2 linked regions of the Homo sapiens genome follow. The protein of the gene in region 1 purifies or fractionates together with the protein of each later gene. This does not show direct contact. Each region holds a gene or a part of one and is shown on either strand. Other genes may lie near its edges.

The links. The genes of interacting proteins can lie anywhere in the genome.
Region 2: the proteins of ARHGEF10 (region 1) and DNAJB5 purify together in Homo sapiens (affinity purification with mass spectrometry; 3 studies listed by BioGRID and IntAct, with this or other methods). This does not show direct contact.

The regions. Positions count from the first base shown.
Region 1 is NC_000008.11:1,951,882-1,956,690, reverse strand, and holds part of ARHGEF10 (rho guanine nucleotide exchange factor 10), read right to left. Parts: intron 3,987-4,809; coding exon 3,864-3,986; intron 1-3,863. UniProt on the Homo sapiens protein: May play a role in developmental myelination of peripheral nerves.
Region 2 is NC_000009.12:34,995,017-34,999,196, reverse strand, and holds the end of DNAJB5 (dnaJ homolog subfamily B member 5), read right to left. Parts: intron 2,933-4,180; coding exon 2,331-2,932; intron 2,172-2,330; coding exon 1,938-2,171; 3' UTR 769-1,937; downstream 1-768.

The DNA.
Region 1 (4,809 bases):
AAGCAAAAAGTGCAGGGCTTAACCCCAACGCATTCCTCCCTGCCCAAATAACAAAGCCTGTAAGTAACTTGCATACATGAATAATAAGCTACGATGAAAATATCTGGATTATATTCCTCTGGGTTTTTACTTAATGTGAAAAAGGCTTTAAAAATGATTTTCTAAAATAGAAAGTTGTGTTTTCCTCAGCACTATTTCAGTTCTAATACTCCTACTGTACTTTTCAAAGTAATAAAATAGTCATTTTTCCATTCTGCATAAAATACCTTCTTACTTACCCTATGGAAATATCCCAAATTTTCCTAAGTCTTGATTAGAAATATTAACGCCTGAAATGTGTTGGTTTGGGAAAGAAATGACTAAACTACCGGCTGCCTGCCATTTTTCATTACAAAAACGTTCTGGGGTTCAGAACAATTTAACTCTATAATTTGATTAAAATTAGGACTTTCAGTTTTCAGGTGATGTGATTCAAATTTTAAAGTCACGATCGTATCAGAAACACCTGCAGGTCTTCTTAAAGCCACACACAGCCCCGCAACCCCCACACTGATTCTGTAAGCATCACGTGGACCTGGCGTGTCTTCTGGATGCTTTGTGGGTGACATGACATATGGACAGGGGCACGTGTCCTTTCCCCAAGTGCTTTCAGATGAAACAGGCCCCAGCCCTCACCATCATCCTACTCTGGCCAAGGCAAATGACATCACTGAATCTTCCACCGTGGTGAGAGTCCATTTCCCAAAGAGGAGAGTGGCAAAGTGAAGTCTGCAGGGAGCAGGAGCTGGGGGGACTGTGCAGGGACAGGCCCGCTCATCACCTGGCGAAGCACACACCTGTGATCCCTGCACACCAGCGATGCTGCCCCTGGGCAAGCCCCCAGAAGGAGCTTCTGCCCATGTCAGCAGAGCCAGCCACACAAATATACAGAGGCTTGATGTGTAATGCAAATGGGTAGCACCTAGCTACCATCCAAAGAAACACAGTGAGTGCACGTCCTTTCAGGAAGCACCTAGCTACCCATCCAGAGAAACAGTGAGAGTGCACCTCCTTTCAGGAAGCACCTCGCTACCCATCCAGAGAAACAGTGAGAGTGCACCTCCTTTCAGGATGCACCTAGCTACCCATCCAGAGAAACAGTGAGAGTGCACCTCCTTTCAGGATGCTCCTAGCTACCCATCCAGAGAAACAGTGAGAGTGCACTTCCTTTCAGGATGCTCCTAGCTACCCATCCAGAGAAACAGTGAGAGTGCACCTCCTTTCAGGGAGCACCTAGCTACCCATCCAGAGAAACAGTGAGAGTACACCTCCTTTCAGGGAGCACCTAGCTACCCATCCAGAGAAACACAGTGAGTGCACCTCCTTTTAGGGAGCACCTAGCTACCCATCCAGAGAAACTGTGAGAGTGTGCCTCCTTCCAGGATGCACCTGGCTATCCTCCAGAGGAACAGTGAGAGTGCACCTCCTTTCAGGAAGCACCTGGCTACCCATCCAGAGAAACAGTGAGAGTGCACCTCCTTTCAGGGAGCACCTGGCTATCCTCCAGAGGAACAGTGAGAGTGCACCTCCTTTCAGGGAGCACCTGGCTATCCTCCAGAGGAACAGTGAGAGTGCACCTCCTTTCAGGGAGCACCTAGCTACCCATCCAGAAAAACAGTGAGAGTGCACCTCCTTTCAGGGAGCACCTGGCTATCCTCCAGAGGAACAGTGAGAGTGCACCTCCTTTCAGGGAGCACCTGGCTATCCATCCAGAGGCAATGAGGGCACCTCCTTTCAGAGGCAGGCTGCAGGCAGGGAGAGGAAAGCACTATAGCTGTGGCACCAGCAGGGACTGACCCCAGCAAGGCTGAGAGAAAAAGCAACAGAGGCTGCTTGCACCATGGGACAGCTAGGAAAATGCAAAAGCCGGAAAGGTGAAAAGTACCCTTTAAGATACAAATTGGTACAACTACAGAGGAGGACCAAAGGAATAATTGACGTAAAACTCAGCATCATCATTTCCTAGGGTTGTGAGCAGAGAGGGCTGAGGCTGAGAAGGGGCAGCTGAGGCTCAGTGTGTGAGTCACAGCCCCTTCTGACCTGGGCACAGGCAGGTGGCCTCTTCTCGTTACCATTTAAACTGTGAAACTGTGCGTTATGCACAATTCTATGTATTTACAGGCTGAGTGTCACTTATCTGAAATTCTTGGGACCACAAGTGTTTTGGATTTTTTTTTTTAATGTTGGAATATTTGCATTGCACTTGCCGGTTGAGCATCCCAAATCTGAAATCCAAAATCTGAATTCCTCCAATGAGCACTGCCTTTCAGCATCACGTCGACACAGAATTTGGAGCATCTGAGGCCAAGGCAGGCGAATCACTTGAGTTCAGGAGTTCGAGACCAGCCTGGCCAACATGATGAAACCCCACCTCTACTAAAAATACAAAAATTAGCCAGGCATGGTGGCTGGTGCCTGTAATCCCAGCTACTAGGGAGGCTGAGGCAGGAGAATAGCTTGAACCTGGCAGGCAGAGGGTGCAGTGAGCCGAGACTGTGCCACTGGACTCCGTCCTGGGTGCCAGAGTGAGACTACGTCTCAAAAAGAAAAAAAAAAAATTGGAGCATTTCGCATTTTGTTTTTGGATTTGGGGTCCTCAACATGTACAATCCCATATATCATAATAAAAACATAAATTAGGAAATGAATGGCAAAACTAGAATTCCTTAATCCTTGTGGGTGGACCTGCCAAAATCTGAGTGCACGGAAGCCACCGTCAGGTCGGCCTGGGAGGAAATCACAGAAATGGAGCCCGTAGGAACAGTTCTGCTCTACAAGCTTCCTGCAAAGCGTTTTCTCTGTTAGTATTTCCCCCTGGCTGACATAGTAACCCACATAGAATCTAAGGCTGTGGTTTACTGAACTTAACAGGACGAGGAGTTTTCCGCGTCACTGCAGGCTCTGCACACACCACTTCTGCTGGCTGTGTTCTACCCATTACCGGCAATGCCACCATTTTATTAAATGGCCCAATCCGTCATTACGAACTGCGGGTCACCTCCTGTTTCGTGCTGTTAAAAATTAAATGCTGTGGCAAATGTCTTCTTGCATCATACTTTGTTCCTAGCTTAGGCTGTTTCCTGGGCCAATTCCCTGGATTGGGAATCCTGATTCCAGACACACAAGCATGTTTTAAGGCCTCCAATCCCTAACGGGACTGTGTCCAGAAAGGCCATGTGTTCCAGCCTGAGCTCTTACTGACATTGCAATAGCACAATGGAGCCTTTTCGGATCCCCGGCTTCCTTCTTCACAATATAAAATACAGAAAGGAAAGACGGAGATCCCGGCTTCCTTCTTCACAACATAAAATACAGAAAGGAACGACGGAGATCCCGGCTTCCTTCTTCACAACATAAAATACAGAAAGGAATGACGGAGATCCCGGCTTCCTTCTTCACAATATAAAATACAGAAAGGAACGACGGAGATCCCGGCTTCCTTCTTCACAACATAAAATACAGAAAGGAATGACGGAGATCCCGGCTTCCTTCTTCACAATATAAAACACACAAAGGAACAACGGAGATCCCGGCTTCCTTCTCCACAATATAAAACACAGAAAGGAATGATGGAAACTAATTCTGGCAGTAAACAGAATATAAAAACATAAGATTCTCCTTGGACTACTAAGGTAAAAAATGGAAAAATATATAAATTGATAATTCCAATTAAACAGTCTATTAAGTCATTATAATACACTGAAAAACCACAGATAATATGAATTGTTTAAAGAATCCTAGGATGTTAAATCACACTACACACTGCTATGCTCCACGAGCCTGCAAGACAGGATGCAGCCACTCAGACTGCAGGTGCCACTCACCGGTCACTTTGGGAATCCCTTGCAGACGTGGGACCGGCAGGGCCACGAGGACTCCCAGGCTGGTGCCGACCATCAGCAATCCGTGGCAGACGAGCAGGCTCGTCACCGACAGCCGCTGGTGCCCTGGGCGGAAAGACATGAGTGGCTTCGGGTCTGGTTTGTGTAGCAGAGTTGGTGGGGCGGTGACGGGGTGCTGGAAACCCCACAGGCCTGTCGTGCCACCACCAAATCCGCCAGGGGCAGGATGTGGCACAGGAGTTCCCAAACCCGAGCACCAGGCTCCCTCAACCACATGAGCAAGACAAGGGTCTTGAGGGCATACCCTGCACCTGCACCTGAACAGAACAGGCCAGATGTCTGGTTGGGTCTCCTGGGCTGTCGTCTGCATGGCTCTGCTTGGCCGCTTCAGCCATGAATCAAGCCCCTGGATGAATCTGTCTAAACCTTTTGCTTCTGGGCCGTGTAGCACGTGAGCTCGTGAGCCCCCGACATACACAGCGGCCTGTGGTTCTTTGGGAGCAGAGAGACCCCTTTACAAGTGAGGAGAGGTCTCTTAATGGGCGCGGCTGGACTCGAGTAACCGGCCCTCAGCCGCAGTTGGACCCTAGAGGGGAACTGAACGGCCTCTCCAGGGCTCTGCGTGAAGAACAACATCGTCACACAGCCTCAGCGCTGGACACAGCAGGGAAACATCACGGTGGATGGTGGGGTGAGAAGGGCCTTTGAGGCTCTTTGTTAGTTTGGTTTTGATTTGCTTTACAGCCAAGGATCTGAAGCCCAGAGAAACTAAACAATTTGCTCCGGCAGTGACAAGGCTAGAAAGTGGCTGCAAAACAATGTGGGAGACGCATGGCCTATTCCAAGACCCCGCCTCACGGCGGTTACAGGGAAGACCCCGCCTCACGGTGGCTACAAGGAAGACCCCACCTCACTGCAGTTACAGGGT
Region 2 (4,180 bases), on another chromosome or scaffold:
CTGCACAAGAGTGCTACTCTCCTCACTCCGGGCCCAAACACTTGGGGGTAGCTCTTCTAGTCAGCCAGAAAGTCCTTCAGCCTCGCCAGGAGCAGTGGCTCATGTTTGTAATCCCAGCACTTTGGGAGGCCAAGGCAGGCGGATCACTTGAGGTCAAGAGTTTGAGACCAGCCTGGGCAACATGGTGAAACCCTGTCTCTACCAAAAATACAAAAATTAGCCGGGTGTGGTGGTGCATGCCGGTAATCCCAGCTACTCGGAGGCTGAGGCAGGAGAGTCGCTTGAACCTAGGAGACAGAGGCTGCAGTGAACCAAGATCGCATCACTGCACTCCAGCCTGGGCGACAGAGCAAGACTCCGTGTCAAAAAAAAAAAAAAAAAAAAAAAGTTCTCCACCCCCTCCTAGAAAAAAATTTTCTCCTAGAAGGAAAATTTGTCTGACTCAGAGAAAATTTAGACAAGAAGAGAAAATCTGTTTTCATGCTAGCACATCTGAAGACAATGGTCTCTGTCTCTCATGAGCAGGGATATTTTTCCTTCCCAAATAGATGTTTCTTCTAATAGCTGAGTGGTACTTTCTGTCTGTGCTGTGTTTGAAGTATAAGTTTTAGAAATCCCAGGAGGCTTCGAGGAAGGCAGAGGTCAGCTTCAGCTTATACTGAGGGCCTGCTTGGGCTTCTCAAAGGTGACCAGAGCCCGGGAGGGAGGATGACAGTGGCCCTCCTCAGCCACCCCCATCCCAGGTTTGTTGCTCCTGCTCAGATGCCATATTTTTAAAATACTTTATTTTTTACATAATACTGTCATTACAAAAAAATACAAAAAAACTACTATAAAAACATTCGGGGGTTGTCAAAGTGAGAAAACCTAAAGACCCCACCCCAGGATCTGGCTGAAGCAGTCTTCCCCCAGCTTCTTCACTATGACCTTTATACAACTATGGGGGTGGGGTGGGATCACACAGGCATAAAAGGGCTGGAAATTCCCCACACAGCCTCCAAGGGTAAGAAATGAGTAGCTTCACATATCACAAAAGTGGGATTTGGAAGTTTGGGGGTGGCTAGGCCCTGAGTTCAGAGGTGTGGGGAAAAACCTGTGACCCTGAATCTCTTGGTGGGGAATAGCTGCCACCTGACCCCAAAGCCCTTTCCCTTCCTGATGAAGGCTGGTAGATGGGCCCTGTCCCCCACCTCTTAGCCTTAATACCTCAGGCCCCATTCCCTGCCCTCCACCCTTGAACACTCCTGAGAGCAGCAGGGAGGACAGAACCTCCAGCTCTGCAGGTGTAGGCAGGGCAGCTGTTACGGAGGCTGCTGAGGAGCTCACCCCCCTGCTCCAGATGAAAAGTGTCTCGTGCTCAAGTCCCTGTTCACAGGTTGTGAACTTTCCCTTCTTATCCTCTCTCCTTTCTCCCAGAGAGGCACAGACAGCTCTAGGTGAGTGCTTCTTGTGCATGAATATGTGTGCCATTACCTTGGACACTGTGGACCTGGGGGTGGGGCTGAGAAAGCAATGTCCTTTCTAGTCTTTTCCACCCCCAACAGCAGGAAGCCAAAGGGAAGGGAGGGGACTGGTATTAGCAAAGCTGAGGGGAGGAGGACATGCTATGTACAGGCATGGATAAGGAATCTCTACATATCTTCAAGTAGCACTCAGGTCACTCTCCAGCCACTGCAGTGGAAACTGGATTGAAAGCTAGTGACATGAACATTGACCCCTGGCCTGGGCTAGCTCTCCCCACCTCCCTCCCACTCCCCCCAGGCAGCCCAGCTCTAAAAGGGGTCAGGGACAGGAACATTTTCCTGAAAACCAGTGGCTTTTTTTTGCATTTTAGAAAAAGTTGCCAGTGTCCAGTGGACATCAAGCTGGGTGCACATTGAGTGGAGTGAGTGTTGGGGGTATTGCTGTGGTAGGCTCTGGACTGGCTGGGGCAGAGCCTAGGAACAGGGTAGGTGCTGCTTAAGGATCTGTCTTGTCTGTGGTGTTAATCTGTCTGGGAAGCGAACTTTGAACTCAACAATGAGGTCTCCTCGCTGAGTTGGCACTTTGGGGAAGGGAAGGCCCTCCCCACGGAGTCTCTTCACGGTGCCTGGCTTGATGACATCATTGCAGGGCAAAGGGATCACTCGGCCGTCGATAGTGGGAATGTTCACAGTGCAGCCACACAGCGCCTGGGAAAGACGAAGCAGAAAGTGAGGAAAAGGTGGGGTAAGGTGAGTGGGAAGGAAGGAAATAGACTGAGGTGGGGAAAGAATGTGCCAGCTGGCGGGAAGAGAGGGAATGTCCCCACCATCTCCCCAGCACACACACACAGCCTGACTAGGCCCCACCTCCTTGAGGCTGATCAGGGCACTGTAGAGCACGTTGGTGCCATCTCGGCGGAAGTGTGCATGGGGCTTGTCTTTGAGCACAAAGACGATGTCAGCAGGGATGTTGTCAGGTGTGGCGTCGCCTTCTTTGGGGAAGGTGATCTTGGTGCCTTCCTTCCAGCCACGCTTGATGACTATGTGCAGGATCTTGTCCTCGGTGCGCACAGTTCGCCCATCAGGGTTGAGGCGACGCCTTGTGATCTTCATGCGCTTGGTGGAGCCATGGTAGATCTCCTCCAGGGACACCCGCAGCTCGTGCACCACTGGGGGGTCCTGCACCTTGCGCCGAGGGTACAGTGGTTCTGGGGCTCGCCTTGGACCCCTACTCAGCCCATTGAAGCCAAAACGGCCGAAAGCGCCAAATGGGTCCTCATCTTCATCCACATCCATGTCATCTGGGTCAAAGCCACTGAAGGGCCGAGTGGAGCGGCTGCTGGCAAAGAAGATATCGAAGGGGTTGGAGCCACCAAAGAAGGAGGCAAAGGTGGCATGGGGGTCCCCATGAAAGGTGTAGTGAAAGGAGCCACTGGAGCCACCTGATGTGCCACCGCCGGTCTTCAGGCCTAGAGGGGAGGAGAAGTTAGGGGCAGTGTGGCTTATTCTGGCCCCAATCCCAGTGTCTTCCCCCTGCCCTCTAGCTCCCAGTTCACAGGCTTAAAGAAAGAAGCAACCTTTAAATCCCACAGAGAGGGCCAGGCTAATAGAGTAAGAAAGGCTTCTGGCAAGATTATCTTCCATTCCTAATTATATATTTAATAACGATGCACAACTTGAGATTCAAAGAGGCTTGCTTACCCAATAGGTGGAAAAGCCAGGACTAGAGGACTTAGAGGATGTGACTTCCAGTCCTGTAATCTTTTCCACATACTCATGGTCCAAAGATGTCTCAAAAAGCCTTGAATGACTAGCCTGGTGTCACATTACAAGTGATACTTGGTTCCCAAATCTTTGCTTATCTCCAAAGACATATAGGACAAGGGGCCATCAGACAGGATGTGACCACAGAGGGGGCTGGTAAGTGAACAGTCGCAAATAGGCTAGGGATCCAACCCGGGAGGAAGACCACTTTCACTCTGCTTCTAGCAGTGTTTCCTCTTTCCCTGGCCCCTGCTCAAACGGGAAATCAGGAAGCCTTAAAAAGTGGGAAAGCTCATTAGCTTGGAGATGAAGAGCTATTTTTCTAGAAAAAGTTTTTAAATGCTTTGTTCCCACACTCTGCTCGGTGTTACACAACTTTAGGGAGTGTCATTCACACATTGTACAGACATAGACTACAATGGGAATGGAGCTCCCTGGAGTTATACAACAGCAAACGCCATACCCCACACCTAATGTTGAGCAACCAAAATGCATGAATGGGCTGGCACATGGCAGTGGTGACCTTAGCTGCTCTCTCTGTCAGGTCCTGTCTAAGGGGCTCAGATTCCTGGAGGCAGCCTTCATGCACAGGAGGGGGTGCTGGCAGTAGTGGGGGATGTGGGGAGACGGTTCACACTGAGAACTGCTCCGGAATACAGAGACTATGGGTGGGGTCCAGGCTAGGAAAGAGACCCTTCTCTTTGAGGCCATTTATCTAGAATTTCAACTGATCATGGAGATCTGAGCCTAAATTAGCCTCTTATTTCCTGGGACCACAAGGGCAGATTTGAGTTTCACTAGAGAGGCCAAGTGGCAGACGGTTCAGGGACTTGTGGCAGCTGCCTCTTCACCCCTCCCCCAAGACCTAGGATCTCTCCTTTCCTTCTATCGAGGGGCTGATTATCAAGCGAGTTCAAGCAGCCTGGCAGAGCTCAGTGAGAGAGGGAGGGAGG